Linked DNA regions of Homo sapiens. The protein of the gene in region 3 binds, or shares a complex with, the protein of the main gene of each other region. Each region holds a gene or a part of one and is shown on either strand. Other genes may lie near its edges.

Region 1 (4,289 bases), on a different chromosome or scaffold from region 3:
AGGCCTCCACATAACCCCTCAGGGAGGCCTGGAGTCCAGATGCTGTACTCCAGTATCTAAACAATCACTCAATCTTAAAGCTGACAGGTTCAAAGCTCTTACTTTGGGCCGAGCGCAGTGGCTTACGCCTGTAATCCAGGCACTTTCGGAGGCTGAGGTGGGTGGATCACCTGAGGTCAGGAGTTTGAGACCAACCTAGCCAACATGGTGAAAACCCATCTCTACTAAAAATACAAAAATTAGCTGGGCGTGTTGACACGTGCCTGTAATCCCAGCTACTCGGTAGGCTGAGGCAGAAGAATCGCTTGAACCCAGGAGGCAGAGGTTGCAGTGAGCTGAGATCATGCCACTGCACTCCAGCCTGGGTGACAGAGTGAGACTCCCGTCTTGGGAAAAAAAAAAAAAAACAAAAAAACCTCTTTCTTTGGGCCAAGCCTCCACTGAGTGCCAGGGATACAGCAGCAACCTCAGACCCTACCCTCGGGGCTGACAGGGCTGGATCAACAATTGCATCAGTGAATTAAAAGGCACAGGAGGCTGGGCACCGTGGCTCACGCCTGTAAACTTTTGGAGGCCGAGTTGGGAGGATCGCTTGAGCCCAGGAGTTCGACACCAGCCTGGATAACATAGAACTCCGTCTCAAAAACAAACAAACAAACAAAAAAAACGTTCCCGACTGGCTTCCCTGAGGAACGTGGCGTCCCAGTGAGACCGGATGGGTGAGGAGCAGCCGGCCTGTGAGTGGTGGGGGACCGCGTTCCTATCTCGGAGCTGAAGAAGCGTGGAAGATGATCTGGCCCAACATCTCTTTGTTCTCAGAGGAAGGGCCTTCCAAGACCGGGGAGGGGCCTGTGCGTGGGTCCCGGTCCGAAACGTGTCTGGGCTGCTGCGAGAGACAGTCGGTGAAGGAAGGGAGGGGACATCCGAAGGGTGGCCCGGGAGGCCGGGCGATGGTGAGGAGGGCGCCTCCTCTCCACCAAATCCTCCCCATCCATGCGGGCTAGGGACAGACCCTCCCCCGCCCACCCTAGGCTGGAAAGTGAACGTTCTCTGCACCTCTCCCACCTACAGACTAAGTAGGGCACCCGGTTTCCGTGTCGGCTTCACCACTGACTCGGAATGGGATCTACCTTTCTCTGAGCCTCACTTTTCCCATCTGAAAAATGGAACTTCCGATCCCGCACTCCCATCCCACTCTGGCCCCGGGACTCTGGGATACTTAGAGATTGGCTTTTGGTGGGGCGGCGACAGGACTGTGGCCATGAAGGCCAGGGAGTCTGGGTCCCCAACTCGGTCCCATTCCCTAGAGAGATTCGGGCAGCAACCGGCCCCACAATGCTCTTGAGAACTACACTTCGCCGATATGCAAAGAAGAGGAGGCGGTTCCTGCTCGTCTCCGACGAGGTGGGCCCGAGCAGGCCTGGGGACTACGACTCCCGGCGTGCTCCGCAGTCCAAAGCCGGAAGAGCGTGGACCCGGAACCGGATGTGGCTTGCGGCTCGGGTGGCTGAGCGCGCGGGGAAATGGTGAGATTGGCACCGTGTGCCGGAGATAGGGGCGTCTGGGGGTGGGGTCCCGGGTCTGCTCAGGAGCTGGGGCATGGGCACTTGGAACGGGGATTGCTCTCCCGCCCCCACTATTGTACGGACGACAACGCGGAGGCCTAGCATTCTCTCCCAGCCTAGAAACTGATCCCTAGTCAGCCCTCTACCATCTGTTGAATGGGAAGCTTAGACCGTGATCGGGCCGCGACGCCCCGCTTCCATTAGTGCGCCGAAATAGAGGGTCACTTCGTCAGCTGAGACCTCCCTTTTCTCCAGGCCACGGGGACAGACCAGGTGGTGGGACTCGGCCTCGTCGCCGTTAGCCTGATCATCTTCACCTACTACACCGCCTGGGTGATTCTCTTGGTATGTCATTCTCCCCGTCCGCTGCTCACCTTCCCCGAGCCCTGGCACCGCCAGAGCAACTACTATATAGGCTCTAGGCACGGCGCTGGCTTCATTGCCTGCCTCATCTCTTGAACTCTCCAGAACAACTCTATGAGGAAGATGCCAGTGGTACCGCATTTTATAGATGAGATAGCTGAGGCTAGGGGAGAAGGATCTGGCCCAAGATTGCATCCTTAGCCGCTACACTTATAACTCTGTTTCCGGCTTGCTTTGACTTTTGGGGGAGTTCTGTTCCTTCTGGGTTAGCCTGCTGACTCTTAGGCATGGCAAACGCCAGTGATATTTGTGAAGGCCTTTAGGATATTTTTTTCTTGTGGGAAAACTTGTTGGTTATTGCTTAAGAAGTGCAGTGTGTCTGGAAGTGCAGAACTTGGTATCCTTTAGAGAAAAAATATTAGTGAAGAAGCCCTGGAGGCCCAGGTTGGGAGTCAGTCGAGGATTCCTCAAGTACCATTTGCTAGGCTGTGAGGTGCCTTAGGGCAGGTCTCTTGTGCCCTGTTCTCTTGTCCCCACCACCAACCTATAGCAGGCACCAAAGCAAGTGCCCGGTAAATACCAATAAGAAATTAAGGAAAGAAACAAACCACGACACCCAAATGCCGTAATCTTAAAGAAAAGCAAATGCAGTCCCAGTCCTCTGAATGGGTCAGCCCCTTAGATGGAGGAGGTGGGACGTTTGGGCTTGGGGGCTCGGCAAGGCAAGCAAGACACACCAGAGCTCTTCCCTCGATGCCAGCCATTCATCGACAGTCAGCATGTCATCCACAAGTATTTCCTGCCCCGAGCCTATGCTGTCGCCATCCCACTGGCTGCAGGCCTCCTGCTGCTCCTGTTTGTGGGTAAGTCATCACCTCCTCCCCTTGACCCTGGGCAGGGTTTCGGGAAGACCCCACCTCTGAACATGCTTCCACACTTTGGCGGTGCTGGAAGCTGCTTGCCCCGAACTCACCCGTGGGGTTTTCCTGTTCATCCTTCGAGGCTGCCAGTCAGTAACCTCTGGGTTTCCTGGTGCCCCAGGCTTTTTGGACTCCAATGACCTGTCTACCTCTTTCCTGCCCCAACCCCATCATCACTCTGCTCACACCTCAGTCACCCTCTTGTCACCCTGGCTTCTAATTCCTGCACCTCTCTCTCTCATGGCTTCCTAGGGATGGGGACTGTGTCTCCATCATTACTGCACATCTAGAACAGGCTGTGGCACTGAGGCTGTGCTCAGAAAGTCATTTGGATGAGTCAGTCAACAGCCGGGTGCCTGGATGATGGGTGGATGGATGGGTGGGTGGGTGAGGTGTAGGAGGAGGTGGGTAGGTATGTAGGTGGACAGACAAGTGGTTGACCGGGTGATCGATAGATGGGTGGATCTTGTTCCCCTTGGAATCTGAAACACTAAATGCAGCATCTTGCTTGAGGCAGGCACTCAGTTGGTGTTTGTTGAGTGAATGTGAGTAGACATATGCCTTGACGAATGACTAGGGAGATAAGCAGGTTCCCTGGAGGATGGTTGGGTAGGTTCACAGCCCTGTGTGTGGGTGGCTCTGCTGTGTCATGCCCTGGCCTCCCAGCAGCCCTGAGCTTAGATCTTATGTGGCCTTTCTGGTCTGTGTATCCCAGGACTGTTCATCTCCTATGTGATGCTGAAGACCAAGAGAGTGACCAAGAAGGCTCAGTGAAGGTCCCGCAGGGATGAGGCTGCCAGCCCCTTCTCTGCTTCCCCTCCAGCACAGGGACCAAGTGGGGGAGCCTGCAGAACCTGTCCAGGCACAGTGGCTCCTCAAGCCTGCCTGTCCTGCAGAGTCCCCATGGCATGGAGCTTACACCTGACTGACTGGAGCCCCCTCCCCGACTCCCACTTCCAGAAGCTAGGAGGGAGGGATACCTGGAAGACTCCGGTCACCTCCTTCTTGCTCAGGGCCTAAAAGATGCTGGTCCTCCCAACCTCACTCTCAGACTCCCTGCCACCTTTTCCCCTGGGTTCTGCCGTCTTGCCTCACTTCCCCTCCTGTCACATGCTGACGTTGGACTTAGCAGGTTCTAAGGCCACATGTGTGACCTCTCTGACTTCTCTTCCTCCACCAAGGCAGCTTTCCTTACCCTGACACAGCCCCAGACCCCACAAAGCCTTCTGGACCTGGAAAGCCTGGGGAAGGACTGACAGACCCCAGGACCAGCCCTGGGGCTCAGGGCAGCCACCCCGGGCCGCTGACCGACTGACCTCTCCTCACGGAGGCCCAGCCCCAAAGCCCCAGGGCTGGCCCGTTTGGGACAGCTGACCAATAAACACTGATGGTGTGTTTGTCTCTGTGCCGTGTTTACCCAGGGTCGGGGCTGGAGCGGGCT
Region 2 (3,506 bases), on a different chromosome or scaffold from region 3:
CACCGGCATCTGGCAGACATCAACCACAAGCAGAGAGCTACAATCTAGCATACTTCTGGGAACACAGAGCCTCCTCTTTCAACAGCCACATGAGGCTGTACATGTTGCTGAGCATGGATGGTGAGGACATGCAGAAGCATTTCATGGATTTCAAATAAAAGAAGATAAAGAGATGGGGGAAATTTCAGTAGATAGTATAGGTCAAATGCTGGCAAATGAAATAACGTTTTTTGCTGAGCAAGTAGGTGGCTTGCTTTTTAAAACACTGCTAAGTACTAAGCTCTAAAATATCAAAAAACGAAGATCTTTAAACATACTTGTTCAGAACACATCAAATGGGCCAACATTCATATTTTGTAATTTGAGTATTACTTGTGCTTAGTCTCATATATTAGACCTTTAAACCGTCTCCTTTTGAACTCAAGGAAGTTATAACATGCAGTGCATGTTGTACAGGTCAACAGCCCTTGAAAGGTACGGCATGTTTTCATCGAGCTCTTTTACCCTGAGGACATTCTGAATACAAACATTTTAATCAGAATTATGTTGAGAATTATGCTGAGACTGGTGAATTGCAATTGAAGAAGTATGTTTACAGCATGAACTCCAAATTAATTTCATGATCGATTTCCTAAATAGCACAGTTAAACTAAGAAGGAGGAGTTGAAATGAATTAAAATGTCATAGGGTTAAAAGAGTAACTACAAACTGACTTTTTTGTCCAGCTTTATTTCAGGTCAATTAATCTACTTATAGTTTTAAGTGATAAAATAACAATTTACTATTATGAAGAGAATGTTAGCGATGACAATCCATTATAGGCAAGGATTTACTTTTTTCTAAAAGTGTATTATAAATCACCATAGAATTAAAAAAAATACAGATGCTGTACTATTACTTTAACCAAAAGAAAAATGTGGTTACCAAAAAAATCCCAATTAGCCCCTTTACTATATGCTGACAAACCGTCACCACAGTTCTTTCCCTGTTAACTTATTACCTACAGTGGCTCAGGCTTCTGGGGTTTATACGATGTCAATGAAGAAGGTCAAGTCACAACTTAACAGTGCCATGGTTCTCAAAGGGAGTGGAGATCAGGATGGTATCATCAAAATAACCTGTCTGACCAAATATCCCTGCCAATTATACCCCCAATTCTATCTCTGCTCCTAAAGGATAACACTGGAATCTAGGGAGTGGTTGGGGAGGCAGGGGGACATCAAGATGGAGTAGAGAGAGTCTGAAAAGGCTGCCCGGGGACTCTGACATGTACTCCCAACAGGTAAGCACTAGACTCCAACTTTCCATGTTTCATATGGGAGAGATAGTACAAGACTTGTAGAAGGTCAGAATGTCTCAAAATGCTTCAGTCAAAAATGTTTGACTGTCGCAAACATCTCATGTTTCAATGGAAAATGTATAAGACAATTTTTAGAGATAAGTTTTTAGAACTTCCATTCACATATGAGTTCATCTTATATACTGGAATTCATCATTCAAACCAAGTAAGAAAGCCTTACAGTAAAGAGCTATTCTCCTCAGCTCCAACTTGCTATCTACTCTAGGCTAAAAACTCATTGCTCCACTGAATATCACGTTGGTAGCATTACTCTAAACTACTACCTTCTCCATGTTCCACCTGGTTATCTTTCTGGTTCACAATTTCTACATACTAAGAAGCTGAGTTGTTTCTGTTCAGCTTGTTACATGGTAATAAGAGGCATGAGGCAGAGAACATCATGAAAAGGACGTAAAGGATGAAACTGAGAATGAAAGCAGTCCCTAATTCAAATTCAGGAAGCATTTCCCACAACTGTAATCTCCTACCTAAGGGTGTTAATCTATTTCCTATACCTGTCCTTTTGGAAATTCTCTGTTGCTGCTTTTTATTTGTGATTTTTCCCACGTTTGTCACGTACATTTTGAATTCTAACTTACTATGTTCTCAATCAGCCCAAAGATGCAAAAATCCTTTTCCTGGAGAAAATCACAGTAGTTAGCAAAAGGGCTACAAGAGGTTTAGGAAGTAGCCTGAATTAAATATTCACAAGTTATAAAGTTGCTGCAATCAGCAAAACCATGCATTTCCTAATAGAGATGTTTGCTTTAGAATTATCAACAGCTTCAAGAAAATATCTAAGAGTAGATTTAATACTCGTCTTGTCTCTACTCATTGTGACTTTTAGAAAATTTTGTAACTTCTTTATGCCCAGTTTAATGAGGGGGCTAGACTGTATTACTGCTATTTTCAAATGTCAAACGCAATAATTTGACCAGACACTTAGCCCGGTGTGTGTACCAAAATCTGTTTCTTTTCACCTGGAAGAGATTTCATCAACTTAAGCAATAGAACAAAAATGGTAAACATCTATGTAAGAAAAAGCAAATGTGTACGTGAAACATCAAGTAAGAGTTCAGACACAATCTTTTCTCAGCATGTGACATACCTTTTCAGTTCTTTCTGCAACATTCCTCCAGGTGTAGAAAGTCTTTACTATGTTATGGATGTTTTCTGGAGCTGGCAATGTCCCTGACTTCAGTTGGAAAATAGCCTTTTCCAATCCTTCACACAAAGATTTTACTGAAGGCTCACATAAAATAATAAGGTTTTCTGGAAGCACCTCAGGAATTCCACCAACTCTGGTACTTACAACCTTAAAAAGAAAGAAAGAACACATACTCCACCATAATCATACCTCAGGAAGATCAACAAAACCAGTTAAAACATTATTATGGAATGTGTCTCATTATTTTTCAAAATACACAGAAATCCCAACCATGAATGCCCTCAAAGCTTTTTACCTGTAAACCACAACTGGCTGCTTCCACGATCGCCATGCAGAATGCTTCAGTAAGGGAGGTATTCAGAAAAATATGTCCTTGAACTAAGACATTTCTAACATCCTTGTGTTCTAAAGCTCCCAAAAGACGCACCCTGATTTTTTAAATGAGAGGGGAAGAAAGGAGTGAAAACTCATGCTACAAAAGAAATTTAATTTATAAACCAAGTCTGCTATTTATATTACACTTAAATTCTTATTGCTGCTAATGTTCTCCACCTCAAGATTAGTATCACCAAACACTGATCTAATAGAAACAGCCTTATAAAGCAGTTGGGTTAAAACTCATACAGCGAACATTATTTCTAACTTTTGTTACACATATCAAACTTTATCTTCTCCAAAACTAGTCTGTATGTAATAATATTAATAAACTTTGATAATTTAATGTTAAAGTGCCATTTGTAAACAGGAAAATGGCCTTTTTATTAAAATTGATGCTTTACACGTACAAGCCTTGTGTTGTGTAAGTTACTGAGGAAGAGACTTGTCCAAATCTGTATGTGCAGAGCAATTTACATGATTTGAGCCCTATTACTTAAATCACTACACAGTATGGCCTGGAAATCTGCAAACGCTTCCAGTTAAAGCAGCTGTTTTTTGTGCCTTTCATGGTGCCTCCAACAATGGCCCCCCAAAGTCAAATAATATTGGGCTAATGGAAAA
Region 3 (3,722 bases):
CTGCATCTCTTTAAAAATAAAGAGATTTACCTTTTAAATATAAGTCTCACTTTTACGGTTTTAGTTTAAATCTGGGAACATCCCATGGGCTGGCTACCTCCTCCAGAGAGGCCTGTAATACTTACCTTTTAAATACTTACCATGTAAATGGCCTCATTGATGACAATATCCTTGACCTTGCCCATTTCTATGAAGGTAGTGCTTTCTTTGCCTGAAGCATAAGATGAAGTCATCTGAATGCCAAGGGAATCAATGATTAACAGAGTCTCCTGATCAATCTTCACAAAATGGAGATAACCAAGCAGACCTAAGAGGGTGATGAAGATGGCAGCAGAGAGGATCATGCTGTTCTGAAGAGAGAGCCAGACACAGACAGTAAGATTACCAAGTGGTACCAGTCAACTCCAGGCAATGAGGGGAACATGCATGGAGGAAAAGGAAATTGCTTTTATTTGGGTTCTAAGGTGCTATGAAAGTATACAGTGAAACAGATCCAGACAACAAATGGATAGGTCTAGGGGAAACCTCCATCAGCAAAATGTCCATCACAGCAATCTCAGAAATTTTTCTTCCAAAATTCCAACTTTAGGGCCTAAATCAGCTGAACGCAGTAGCTTGCACCTGTAATTCCAGCTACTAGGGAGGCTGAGGCAGGAGGATCGTTTGAGCCCAGGAGTTCGAGGCTGCAGTGAGCTATGATCATAGAACTGCACTCTAGCTTGGGTACCAGCATAAGACACTGTCTCTAAAAATCGAAAGGACCCAGCCGAGTGAGGTGGCTCACGCCTGTACTCCTAGCACTTTGGGAGGCCAAGGCAGGTGGATCACAAGGTCAAGAGATCGAGACCATCCTGGCCAACATGGTGAAACCCCATCACTACTAAAAATACAAAAAGTAGCTGGGCGTGTTGGCACGTGCCTCTAGTCCCAGCTACTCTGGAGGCTGAGGCAGGAGAATCGCTTGAACCTGGGAGGCGGAGGCGGAGGTTGCAGTGAGCCGAGATCGCACCACTGCACTCCAGCCTGATGACAGAGTGAGACATCTCAAAAAAAAAAAGGACCCCAAATCTTTTCCTTTCACACTCCCTCAGCAGAATACAGGAGGGAGTTATGTCCTGATAAACCCATTATAAGATGAAAATGCATTTAATATTTAGTTCTAGCACTCAAATAAAAAATTAAAATTAAAAAATGCATTTAATATACCTATCAAGCATCAGAGCTTAGCCTAGCCTACCTTAAACGTGCTCAGAACACTTACATTAGGCCGGGCGCGGTGGCTCACGCCTGTAATCCCAGCACTTTGGGAGGCCGAGGCGGGCGGATCACGAGGTCAGGAGATCGAGACCACGGTGAAACCCCGTCTCTACTAAAAATACTAAAAGTTAGCCGGGCGTAGTGGCAGGCACCTGTAGTCCCAGCTACTCGGGAGGCTGAGGCAGGAGAATGGCGTGAACCCAGGAGGTGGAGCTTGCAGTGAGCCGAGATCGCGCCACTGCACTCCAGCCTGGGTGACAGAGCGAGACTCCGTCTAAAAAAAATAAAAATAAAAAAAATAAAAAAGAACACTTACATTAGCCTACAGTTGGGCAAATCATGTAACATAAAATCTGATTTTACAGTAACGTGTGGTAAATCTCATATAATTTATTCAATGCTATACTTAAAGTGAAAAACAATGTTTGTATGGGTACTTGAAGTACCGTTCCTACTTGAAGTACCGTTCCTACTGACTTTGTATTGTTTCCGCATCATCCTAAAGTCAAAAAAATCCTAAGTCAAACCATCGTAAGTTGGGAACCATCTGTATATAGTGCAAAATCATAGACTGAACAATTATAAAGTGCTTAGCACAGTGTAGCAGATACTATGGCTTGCCTAATAAACAGCCACCCACCAGCCCCAATTGAACAGTGAGTGAACCATGATTGGTTCCCACTCCTTCTGCCAATGACTGCTTTAAAAATTGGCATGTGACACAACTCTGGCCAATGAAATGTGAGGGGAGATCTGCTGGAGGGGCTTCTGGAAAACTTGAGTTTATCTTTAAAAATCTGCAGAAGAGACGTTCCCTTCATCATGAGGTTTAGATACCTGGAACTACTATGGCCTCTGCCAGACCCAGTGGAGAGCTAGTAGAGGACAACTAGAGGACGCTAAGGGTGGAAGTGCAGTTTCTGCACTTGGAGGACCAGGTGGAGGACAAGTAGGGCACACTAAGGGTGTCAGCAGTAAGATGACAAGAGCCGGAATCAAATGAGTCTCCACGTGAACTCTGGAGCCCTCCTACCTTATGACTTCTTGTTAATATAAAAGGTCCTTATCTCTTAAGGCTATTTTAGTTGTTCTGTGTTACTTACAGTTGACTAAGTGATGTGTTAAGGGCTCAAAAAATGGTGTCTATTATTTATTCCCTTGATTCTAAGACCAATGTATAATCTTTAACATTTCTGAAGTTAAAATGTGTTTTCCTATTGGTGTGTGTTTCTTTCATGTGGCATTGTTTTATCTTTTTTCCCAGAAGCTTGCATTCATTCATTGATTCGAGACAGAATTTCACTCGTTTCCCTGGCTGGAGTGCAATGGTGTGATCTCGGTTCACTGCAACCTCCACCTCCCGGGTTCAAGTGATTCTCCTGCCTCAGCCTCCCTAGTAGCTGGGATTACAGGCACCCGCCACCACGCCCAGCTAATTTTTTTTTTTTTTTTTTTTTTTTTAGTAGAGATGGGGTTTCACTATGTTGGCCTGGCTGGTCTCGAACTCCTGACCTCAGGCAATCCACCCGCCTCAGCCTCCCAAAGTGCTGGGATTCCAGGTGTGAGCCACCGCACCCGGCAAAGCTATGATTTAGAAGACTGGCACAGGAAAAAAATTATTGATGACCTAGAATCAAAGAAATTTTGTAATTTTGGACTGCATTCCTTGAGGGCAGGAAGTGTCTTATTATTCTTTGCACTGACAAGATGCCCTCCTTTATCTACTTCTAGTCAGGTTCCTCTAAGCTGTCTAGGCCCTGACCTTGACATCTTTGTTGGGCCTGCACTACCCACCCAATTGTAGCAAGAATCTTGCTGAATCAGTTTAGAAAGAACTCCCACCCTTGGTATTTGATCAGCCTGGCATGCCTTCAGCAAGAATCCTGTCAAGTCAATTTAGCCAGAATCCCACCTTGCCCCTGATGTTTCCTTTGGGTAATTTTCCATCCACTGACTCCCACCTTGCTCCTTGGCTATAAATCTCCACTTGTCCATGCTATATTCGGAACTGAGGAAATTTGGAAGTCTATACTGAAGTCTCTTTTCCCCTACTGTAATAGTTCCTGAATAACATCTGGTTTTTGTACCACTTCAACTACTCACTAGCTCTGGTTTTCTTTGATGGTCTCTTTCTACTTTTTCATAGTTAACCCATAGTGTTAGATCAGGGATCTGTAAACTATTTGGGCCTGTGGTCTGGTTTTGTCTGGCCCATCTCAAGCAAAGAATGATTTTTAAGTTTTTACAGGGTTGTAGAAAGAAAGAAAAGAATATTATGAGACAGACCCCACAGAACCTGCTATATTTACTATCTAGTCTTTTAATGAAAATGTTTGGGCCAGGCATGGTGGCTCATGCCTATAATCCCAACACTTTGGGAGGCCAACATGGGGGGATCGCTTGAGGCCAGGAGTTCAAGACCAGCCTGGGCAACCTAGTGAGACCCTGTCTCTACAAAAAATACA

Evidence for each region.
Region 1: PIGH (region 3) and DPM2 share a complex: the UniProt entries of both Homo sapiens proteins name them as parts of the glycosylphosphatidylinositol-N-acetylglucosaminyltransferase (GPI-GnT) complex.
Region 2: PIGH (region 3) and PIGA share a complex: the UniProt entries of both Homo sapiens proteins name them as parts of the glycosylphosphatidylinositol-N-acetylglucosaminyltransferase (GPI-GnT) complex.

The regions. Positions count from the first base shown.
Region 1 is NC_000009.12:127,935,055-127,939,343, reverse strand, and holds DPM2 (dolichol phosphate-mannose biosynthesis regulatory protein), read left to right. Parts: upstream 1-1,489; 5' UTR 1,490-1,523; coding exon 1,524-1,526; intron 1,527-1,820; coding exon 1,821-1,910; intron 1,911-2,033; coding exon of another isoform or gene 2,034-2,129; exon of another isoform or gene 2,130-2,527; intron 2,528-2,565; exon of another isoform or gene 2,566-2,688; coding exon 2,689-2,791; intron 2,792-3,563; coding exon 3,564-3,622; 3' UTR 3,623-4,245; downstream 4,246-4,289. UniProt on the Homo sapiens protein: Regulates the biosynthesis of dolichol phosphate-mannose. Regulatory subunit of the dolichol-phosphate mannose (DPM) synthase complex; essential for the ER localization and stable expression of DPM1.
Region 2 is NC_000023.11:15,322,218-15,325,723, forward strand, and holds part of PIGA (phosphatidylinositol N-acetylglucosaminyltransferase subunit A), read right to left. Parts: intron 2,936-3,506; coding exon 2,803-2,935; intron 2,655-2,802; coding exon 2,448-2,654; intron 1-2,447. UniProt on the Homo sapiens protein: Catalytic subunit of the glycosylphosphatidylinositol-N-acetylglucosaminyltransferase (GPI-GnT) complex that catalyzes the transfer of N-acetylglucosamine from UDP-N-acetylglucosamine to phosphatidylinositol and participates in the first step of GPI biosynthesis.
Region 3 is NC_000014.9:67,593,603-67,597,324, forward strand, and holds part of PIGH (phosphatidylinositol N-acetylglucosaminyltransferase subunit H), read right to left. Parts: intron 351-3,722; coding exon 141-350; intron 1-140. UniProt on the Homo sapiens protein: Part of the glycosylphosphatidylinositol-N-acetylglucosaminyltransferase (GPI-GnT) complex that catalyzes the transfer of N-acetylglucosamine from UDP-N-acetylglucosamine to phosphatidylinositol and participates in the first step of GPI biosynthesis.